Regions from separate parts of the Homo sapiens genome. Here region 2 is reported to be linked to region 1. The links are microRNA targets in miRTarBase. Many come from high-throughput screens and were not tested one by one. Region 1 holds a microRNA gene; the other region holds the end of a gene's coding sequence.

Region 1 (4,392 bases):
CCTAAAAGTAACCATGAGCACTCTCCTATCAAACAATTTTCATGTTCAGCATAGTACTTGCCCAAGACATTTTTCTTACTTTTGCATCCCCACTGGACTGTAAGAACCAAGAGAACAAGACTTTGCTATATTTACTGGCACACCCCAGGGCCTTACACAACCTAATAGGCACCAAAAAAAATGTCTGCTGAAGAAATAACACTCATGTAATACTAATAATGCCTCTTTGCCCAACTTTAAAAAGCAAATAGTACATACTAGACATGTTCTGCATTTTCTAAGTTTTAAGAAATCAATTTTCCCACATAAAGTATTATGTGCTTTGTATTAATCTTACAAGCAAAGGTTTTAAAAATACTTAGTAACTGCCACGTTGTTAGTAACTTTAAATACAAGATAATAATATAAAAGCATTTTATCAATTCCAAAACCACCTGCAAATTTTCCGAATGAAATTGCACGGCAATAAAAATCTTTATCAAAATAAAGCTTAATGAAGCAAAGAACAACAAACACAAATCATCCCAGTAACTCAGGACGGTAGTGTCTTTCTGAAATCATGGTGACTTGCTAGCTCTCCTCATTTCTGTGTACAGCCAGGGCACTCGGGTATTGATAGCGAGATACAGATAAATCTCACAGATAACTCCATCATATTTAGAATCACACAGCTCCTAGTGGGTACCTTATTGCCATTAAAACTTTCCCCCAACTCCTCAACACTCTCTTCGGACCATAAAACTAAAATCCCACAGCTTCAAATCTGCTCCTCTGCCTCCCCCTCCCGCAATTAATCCTTTCGAACTTTTCCCAGGGGATTCACATCTGCCATCAAGATGCTTTCATCCTGCTACTATTCCTAAGTGCCTGCTTCCTCCCAGTTACGTAGGTACTCTCGACCCAGAAAAAAGGCACGGGCGAGGCAGGCGTCCCTCCCTCCCACCCCAGCTTCTCCCCGACCCCCAGCAGGAGCGCCCAGCAGGTGCCTCGCTCCGCACCGCGGCTCCCGGGCCGCTGAGAGGCGGGGCACACAAAGGACCCGCATGGACCTCCCCCCCGGCCTCCTAGCGTCTTCCCCCACCCCCCACAGCCCGGCGCCCCGGGTAGCTGGAGAGCGAGGGCGGCGGCCGCAGGCTCGACGGAGACCAGGGACGCTCGCCCCGGTCGCCCCCTCCCTGACCCCAACCCCGCCCACGTCCCACCCACGAAGGCTGCCCAGAACGTAAACCCTCGCCCGGCAAAACCGAAAACGCATCCCCAGCCCGGCTGCCCGGGCCCTGCGCATCCAGCCCGCAGCCTCCCACGCCGCGCCCGCCAGCCGGCGCCCAACGGCCGCCCCCGACCGCCTCCCACGGCACCCGGCTCTTTCCCAGCCCCGGAAGGGTCCCGGTCCCGCCGCCCGCTCCCCCACCTCCCGGGAAGGGCCCGACACCCGCCCGGCCGCCCCGCACTCACAGGCTGCCGGAGCAGGAGGTACACACGAAGGAGCCGACCGTCATGTTAACGTAGGTGGGGCCGCGCTGGTCGCAGTCGAAGCACTTTCGGTTGTGCGGGAGGCCGGTCATGTCCCGCAGCATCTTCAGGTGCTTCTCCTCCTGCTTCCGCTTCGCGCTGGCCGCCATGGCCGCGGCGCCAAGGGAGGAGGCCGGCAGGGCCGGGAGCCGGGCAGCGCTGCGCCGGGGGCCCGCGGTCCCACGGGCCGCCCTGGCCGCGGCCGCCGCCCTCCGTCTGCGCGCGCCGCCCGCGCCGGACCCGGCCGCAGCGGCTTGGCTGTACTGGGCTCGACGCGGCCCGGGCGCTGTGGTACGCGGGCTGACGGGCCACACCAACCGGCACAGCCGGGACAACCGCCGCCGCCGCCGCCACCTTCCCGACTTCTCCTGAGGGGAAAAGACGAGGAAGGGGACGGCAAGAGGAGGCCCGCCCTGGGCGGCCGGTAGCCAAGTGTCCGCTGGCGCCCTCTGCTGGCCAGGAGGAGTCACTGCGGCCTCGCTGAGGCATGGGCCGGGTCTGGAGCCAAGTAGGGTAGACACAATGGTGATAATAATATTAATAATAGACAGTATTTATTGAGCGCTTATATATGCAAAGCGTTTCACATGGGTTACCTTCCCCTTCTGTTTAAAACTCTTCAAGGGCTTTCCACTGCTTTGAGTATAATTCCAAATTCCTCACCGTGCCGTAAAAAGTGCTCCATAGTCTAGCCCAGTCTACCTCATTCTTCGTCGTCCTCACTCAGCCACACTGGATTTTGAGTTTTCTGAACACAGCAAGCTCCTTTCTGACTCCTGCAGGACCTTTGCCCTTGCTCTTCTCTCTTTATCTTTGGGCCAGCTAATTTGGGGGGGCTTGGGGTGTCCTGTGCACTGTAGGATACTGGGCGGCGTTCCTAGCCTATACCCACTAGATACAAGAACAAACCCCCCAATTCCCATTGCTGGCAACCAAAAATCCCCAGACATTGCCAAAAGTGGAGGGAACTTTAGGGCGGTGCAGTCACCTGGCTTGAGAACTGCTGCGTGTGGAAACCCGGATCATCCATAGCTGACATCCTCTAAGTCAGGTGGGGCTCAGATGTCACCTCCCCCGCCAGACTGTCCCAGATCAGCCGAGTTAATGTTGCAGCTCACCTTTCTCGAAGTTGCTCTCCATCAAATTGCTGCGTTGTATTTTCGTCTCAGTTCTAGCTATTTGAAATACTGCATCTTATTTCGTGTTTACCATGGGTGATCTGGACTCTCCCTTTAGGCGCTAAACAGCCTGGCCCCCGTATTTTCTGTGCCACTCCACCCCATTCCCCTCGCAGAGCTGGAGACTAGGTGTTCAATGTTGACGGAATGAATACATGAAATCGTTCATGTAATCTTCACAACAACCCTTCGAGGTGAGCGTTATTGTTATTTACATTTTACAAAACAGGAAGATGAAACCCTGAGGGATTAAGTAAATTTACCCAAGGGTACCTATGGCGAAGCTCAATTCCAACCCAGACAGCCAGACTGCAGGACCCAAATCCCCACTGCAACAATCAACTTCGTCTCTCGTTTTCCAAAGGAGTACAGGGAGACCCAGAGAGCTGAAGTTCTCAAATCACTGGGCTGTTGAATGGATTAGAATCTACGTTTCCTAACAGCCAAGACCAACCTCCACATCTCTCATGAAAGGGATTGGGTGAATCAACAAAGTGAGACTTCATATTAATATAATACTACTAATAATAATTAATGTTTTTAATATTAAAAGAAATGGACAGATAGATTGGCCAATGAATGTTTTTAAACTTTTCTATTATGGAAAATATCAAACTACCATGAGCCCATGGACCACTTTCAGCAATGATTAAGCCCATGGCTAATCTTGCTTTATAAATACCTCAACCCTCCATCCCCTCTCCTATTATTTTAAAGCAAATTCTAGGTTTCGTACCATTCATCTAAATGGTACATAGTTCCATTTGTATCCCTAAAAAATAAAAACTTTATCTCTTTCAAACTTAGCCATGATACCGTTAGCATATCTAAAAAGTTAACAATAGGCTGGGCACGATGGCGCACACCTGTAATCCCAGCACTGTGGGAGGCCAAGGCAGGTGGATTACCTGAGGTCAGGAGTTCAGGACCAGCCTGGCCTACATGGCGAAACCGGGTCTCTACTAAAAATATGAAAATTAGCCAGGCATGGTGGCATGCACTTGTAGTCCCAGCTACTTGGGAAGCTGAGGCAGGAGAATCACTTGAACCTGGGAGGCAGAGGTGGCAGTGAGCCAAGATTGTGCCACTGCACTCCAACCTGGGCAATAGAGCAAGACTCCGCCTCAAAAAAAAAAAAGTTAATAACTCCTAAAGATCATCAAATATCGCACTAGTGTTTAAGTTGGCAATTATCAATATTTTAATGAGATTTTTACAGTTTGTTTGAACCCACTCCTTGCAACTGGGTAATATGTCTCATAAGGTTTCTTTGGGTCTCTCCACCATCTCTTTTTTTTTAATTATAATTCATTTGTTTTAGTAATTGGGCACTTTATTCTGTAGAGTTTCTCATAATCTGTATCATTTAACATGTCCCTCTGTTCTATTTCCTAAAAATTGGTAGTTAGATCTAGTTCACTAGTATCCAGTTCAGTATTTTTGCGGGGCAGGCATTCATTTCATTGTGTTCTTCCATCAAGAGGGACATAATTGAGGAGAGGATATCTTTTTCATGATGTTGGTAACCATTGATGATTAATGTCTAGATTCATTAATTCATTAATGATTAGAAAATACTGATATTCTAATTCTGCCATTCTGGCTGGGTGCGGTGACTCACGCCTGTAATCCCAGCAACTTTGGGAGGCTGGGGCAGGAGGATCATCTAAGGTCAGGAGTTCGAGACCAGCCTGGCCAACAT
Region 2 (4,392 bases), not on the chromosome of region 1:
TAATTTGGCCCTGCCTCCTCCTGCTCTAATCATTACATTGAACAAAGTTGATTCCACTGGTATATGACCTCCTTTACTTGGTGTGTTTCATTATATATGATGTGTTATTTGAACCCCCCTTTTTTTATATTAGGTATGATTTTCAAGTACTAATTTTGAATTTTGTGTGTAGCTTTTGGAATCCCTCATAGTAATACTGCTGTCTGTGTGCCCCAGTACCCTGGTTTTCACGATTTTAGGTGTATACCATACTTTTTTTTTTTTTTAAGACTCACTCTGTCGCCAAGGCTGGAGTACAGTGGCACGATCACAGCTCACTGCAGCCTCTGTCTCCTGGGCTTAAGTGATCCTCCCACTACACCAACTAATTTTTAAAAAAATTTTTTTACAGACAAAGTCTCACTGTGTTGCCTAGGCTGGCCTAGAAATCCTGTGCTCAAGCAGTCCTCCTGTCTCAGCGTCCAAAATTGCTTAGATTAAAGCATGGGCCACCTCGCCTGGCCTACCATACATTTTTGTTCATGTCCATTTCTTTTTCTTAGGGTTATAGTAAGAATAAGGAAGAAATCTTGCAGAGATGTAATGATGTGTTCTTGCTTTTTTCCAGCTGGCCAAAGTGAGGGAAAAAGTGAAGGATGTGCCTGCCCTTGTGGCCAAATTTGATGAGATCTATGGGACACTGCACATCACTGGCCAGGTCACCACTGATTCTTTGGATGCTGTGCTCTGCCACACCCCCAGGGACAGGAAATCTCACACGTTGCTATTAAACAAGAGGATGGTCAGCCGTCGCACCTTCCAGCCACTCAGCCAGTCCCTGTTGGCTGAGTAACCCTGGTTTCAGTCCACCTATGGATCTGAGGGGCCTGCTTCTAGTGAGTTATTACCTTTCCTAAGAAGCCAGGTATCGCACTTCAGCAGACAGTGTGCTGACACTTGGTCTTCTCCTGAAATTCCCAAATTCACTGAATGGTACCATGCCGATCTCTGAGAAGTTATGTTGCACCACTGTGAAGGTCTAGATGCAAGCTTGGCTCCCTCAGAAAGGCGCTTCCCTTTTGCATGGCTGAGGATCCTTGAAGGAACCTGGTCAGTCTCCGGTTCAGCTTCCGACACCAGAGTGGAACCCAGTAAGCACCATCAGGAATGAATTTCACTACAAGTGTGGATAACTCTGATTTTCAAAGGAGTAGTTACTTGCAAATTACATCCTTGCTGAATTCAGGAGGTATGAAACCCTATTTTACCATGTTAGAAAACAGCCCAGGATTTTCTCATTGCTCTGCCATCATATATGTCTATGACTTGAGCCCTTATTTTTCCATCTGCAAAACAATAATGCCTATGTGTCTTTGCATATAGATTTGAAATCTTCATTCAAGGTTTAGTAGGATCATATTTTCTCAAAAATAAGAGAAATAAGGTTCATAAGGAAACTTGCTGGGATTGTGGTTGTTTTGTTTTCTCAGCAGCACAAACAAAACCAGAATTTAGCCTTTAGGACTGCTGAGTAAGCCAAATTTAAATGACTACTGCTTTGTTCATGGGTAAGCCATGTGCTTTTCAAAATAAGTGCCACTAAAAACCACATAATGCTTTGGTTTCTATGTGGATAATAAATATTTAGTCCTATAGTTTATCTTATTTGTTAATGATTTTTCTCTCTTGAATGCCTCATATTAAAAAAAAATGTGCCATGAGAGCAGTTCAAAGCTGCTTCATACTTATGGTCTCAAATATAGTATGTGTTGAATTTTACCGTGTCTGGTCACCAGTGAGCAGAAGATACACAGTGACCCCACCTCACTTGCTCCTTTTGTTTCAGAAAGCCCAGAGGGTTGCTCAGACCTCAGGAGCTGTCTGCCAAGATTGCTGCAGACTCTTCATTGCCACCTCCAAAACTAAGACTGTTCACTTGGTTGTTGTTCTAAGGCAAGGATTATAGAGTCAGAAATTGTAGACTAGGAGAAGTCTTCTGAGTCTCCTAATTAATTCCTTCATCTTTCAGGTTAAGGAAACGATCCATGCAAGAGAGGCCCAATCTCAACTGTAGACTGTGTCCCAGTAAGAGAGTCACAGCTTCAGGTGTTTGCTGAATCCAGGTCTGAGATCACAATCCCACCTGAGGACAGGATCCGCATATGAGAGTCGCACATTGGTATAATTGATTTGTGGTAGAGCTGAGATTAGAATCCAGATTCCTAGTCTAGTATCCTTCCCACTGTACCACATTATCTCTTTTCAGAGGGGAAAAAGGAGCAGCTCTTAAGAAACAGAATACTAAGGGCCCCCATTACTGTGTGGCCCTGGGCATCCTCAGTTTCCTCATTTGGTAAATGGGGATAATGGTACCGACCTCTTAGGCTTGGTGTGAGGATGAAATGAGATAGGGAATATAAAGCAAGCAGATAGTGGCTGGCACATAGTACATGCAATATGTTTGAAACTAGTTAAGGAATTATAAAAACAAATGAGTTCTTCCTTCTGCTCAAAAATATTGAATTTCTTGTCCTTGTGCTCTGTGAAACATTGAACAGCCCCATTTAGAGAAACAAATTCTCTGCCCTCATAGAATCCTAATTGTTTCTGTATGTGTCTGGTGTTTTGCACATGCAAAAAAAAAAAAAAAAGTGCTTGGATTTCTCCACTTTCAGTCTTAGGGAATAATAGGGCATGCTTCCTGTCCCCCCAGCTTACTTTTCATCTTCTCCAACTCTCACAGTTCAAATGGCTCCAGTGCTGTGGGTGAGTGTGGCCTTGGTTGTTAGCTAACAACCATTCATTAGCGAAATAACCAAATTTTGTGAGCAGTAAATAGCAACAAGCTTCCCAATCCCTGCTGCCCAGCCGACTGGAAAAACTGGTCCATTCCACCTGTTCCCAGAAACCTCAGTACAGAGGTAGCTATATGCATAATGTTCACCCCAAAGTAATAGATGATTTTAAAGTCTTAAAAGTCCAATAAAACAGTGTTCAGTATAGGTTATGATAGGCATTTCATTCTTTAAAACTCAGTAATTCCTTTGAAAAAATGATGTTTCTTTATAAGCAGTAGTTTGCCTACATCATTTACTTGTTTTTTTCTGCTTTGGGGTTTTTTTTTTTTTGAGACACAATTTCACTCTGTCGCCCAGGCTGGAGTGCAGTGGTGTGATCTCAGCTCACTGCAACTTCTGCCTCCTGGGTTCAAGCAATTCTCATGCCCCAGCCTCCCAAGTAGCTGGGAATACAGTTGTGTGCCACCACACTGGCTTATTTTTTGTATTTTTTTAGTAGAGATGGGGTTTCACCATGTTGGCCAGGCTGGTCTCTAACTCTTATCCTCAAGTGATCTGCCTGCCTTGGCCTCCCAAAGTGCTGGGATTACAGGCATGAGCCACCGCACCTGGCCTACTTATCCTGTTAATGAAAATATTTGATTGGACAGAACATCTTATTCCTTAACTCTGTTATGTGCTTTTGTAGATTGTTTTTACTTACTGTAGATATCTGTTGCTCCAGAGTCCCAGAAATCAGTATGATGAGTTCAGCACAGTTACTAGAAGGAGACAAAAAGATATCTTCTTAATTAGGTGATATCAGGGATAGTTCTGGTTATTGATTGCTGTGTGGAAAACACTCCAAAACTCAGTGACTTTAAACAACACCAGTCATTGTGTTATTTCTCATTATCCTAAGTACTGACTGGGCTCAGCCAGACAGTTCTTATTCGGGTTCTCATGCAGTTATAGTCATCATCAGATTGTGGCCGCGACTGGCATAATCTCAAAGGCTTCCTTAGTATTTCTGGCAGTTGATGCTAGGACCTCAGCTAGTGCTGGGGCTGGAACATGTCTACACATAGCTTCCCCACAGCATGGTGGCTAGGTACTAGGAGTGACTGTCCCAAGAGGACCAGGCAGAAGCAGTTACATTTTATGACCTAGTCTCAGAAGTCTCATAACATCACTTCCACTAAAGTCCCAAGCCCCCCCAGATTCAAATGGAGGGAGCATATATCCCATCTCAGTGGTAGGAATTTCAAAGAATAAATTCTGTGAAACTGTAGTAGATAGTCTGTTTTCTCCCCTGTTTAAAACCTCCTGAGGACCTCACATGCTTCTGGATAAAGCTCAGGCTCTTCAACATGGTTTAGAAGGTCCTTCCTAATCTGGCCCACATTTGTCCATCCAGCTCCAACTCTTGCTACTCTACGCCCCTCTTCCCCTCTTGTGGAATGGCTAATTCCTACTCATCATTCAGGTCTTGGCTTAGACATCTTTTCATCTGAGAAGGCTTTCTGGTCTAGTCTCACCTGGTTAGGTGAACTCCCCATGTGCCCCATGTACCTCATTTATCAAAGTGCTTATCATATGCCTGTCACTGTCTGTTTTCTTCACTAGACTCAGGTGC

The links. The annotated mature microRNA hsa-miR-5703 reads AGGAGAAGUCGGGAAGGU and lies in region 1 at 1,865-1,882, opposite strand. An mRNA with a match to its seed (bases 2 to 7 or 8) in the 3' UTR can be bound and repressed. Matches are read on the target gene's strand: a 7mer-m8 pairs with bases 2 to 8, a 7mer-A1 pairs with bases 2 to 7 and ends in A, and an 8mer does both.
Region 2: the mRNA of PTCD2 is a reported target of hsa-miR-5703. Seed matches in the 3' UTR shown: 7mer-m8 at 942-948, 7mer-A1 at 2,641-2,647 and 8mer at 2,705-2,712.

The regions. Positions count from the first base shown.
Region 1 is chr2:227,469,652-227,474,043 of GRCh38, reverse strand. MIR5703 (microRNA 5703) reads right to left here and starts at 1,912; the gene lies at 1,857-1,912. AGFG1 (ArfGAP with FG repeats 1) reads right to left here and starts at 1,888. Exons shown (of 13, transcript NM_004504.5): 1 at 1,456-1,888. The coding sequence starts at 1,622. LOC124907994 (a long non-coding RNA gene) reads left to right here and starts at 1,945. Exons shown (of 2, transcript XR_007088114.1): 1 at 1,945-2,884; 2 at 3,055-3,256. RefSeq lists a silencer at 1,180-1,899 and an enhancer at 2,012-2,975.
Region 2 is chr5:72,357,596-72,361,987 of GRCh38, forward strand. PTCD2 (pentatricopeptide repeat domain 2) reads left to right here. Exons shown (of 10, transcript NM_024754.5): 10 at 608-4,392. The coding sequence ends at 832. Among named protein-coding and RNA genes, the nearest start is that of PTCD2, 39 kb to the left of the region's middle.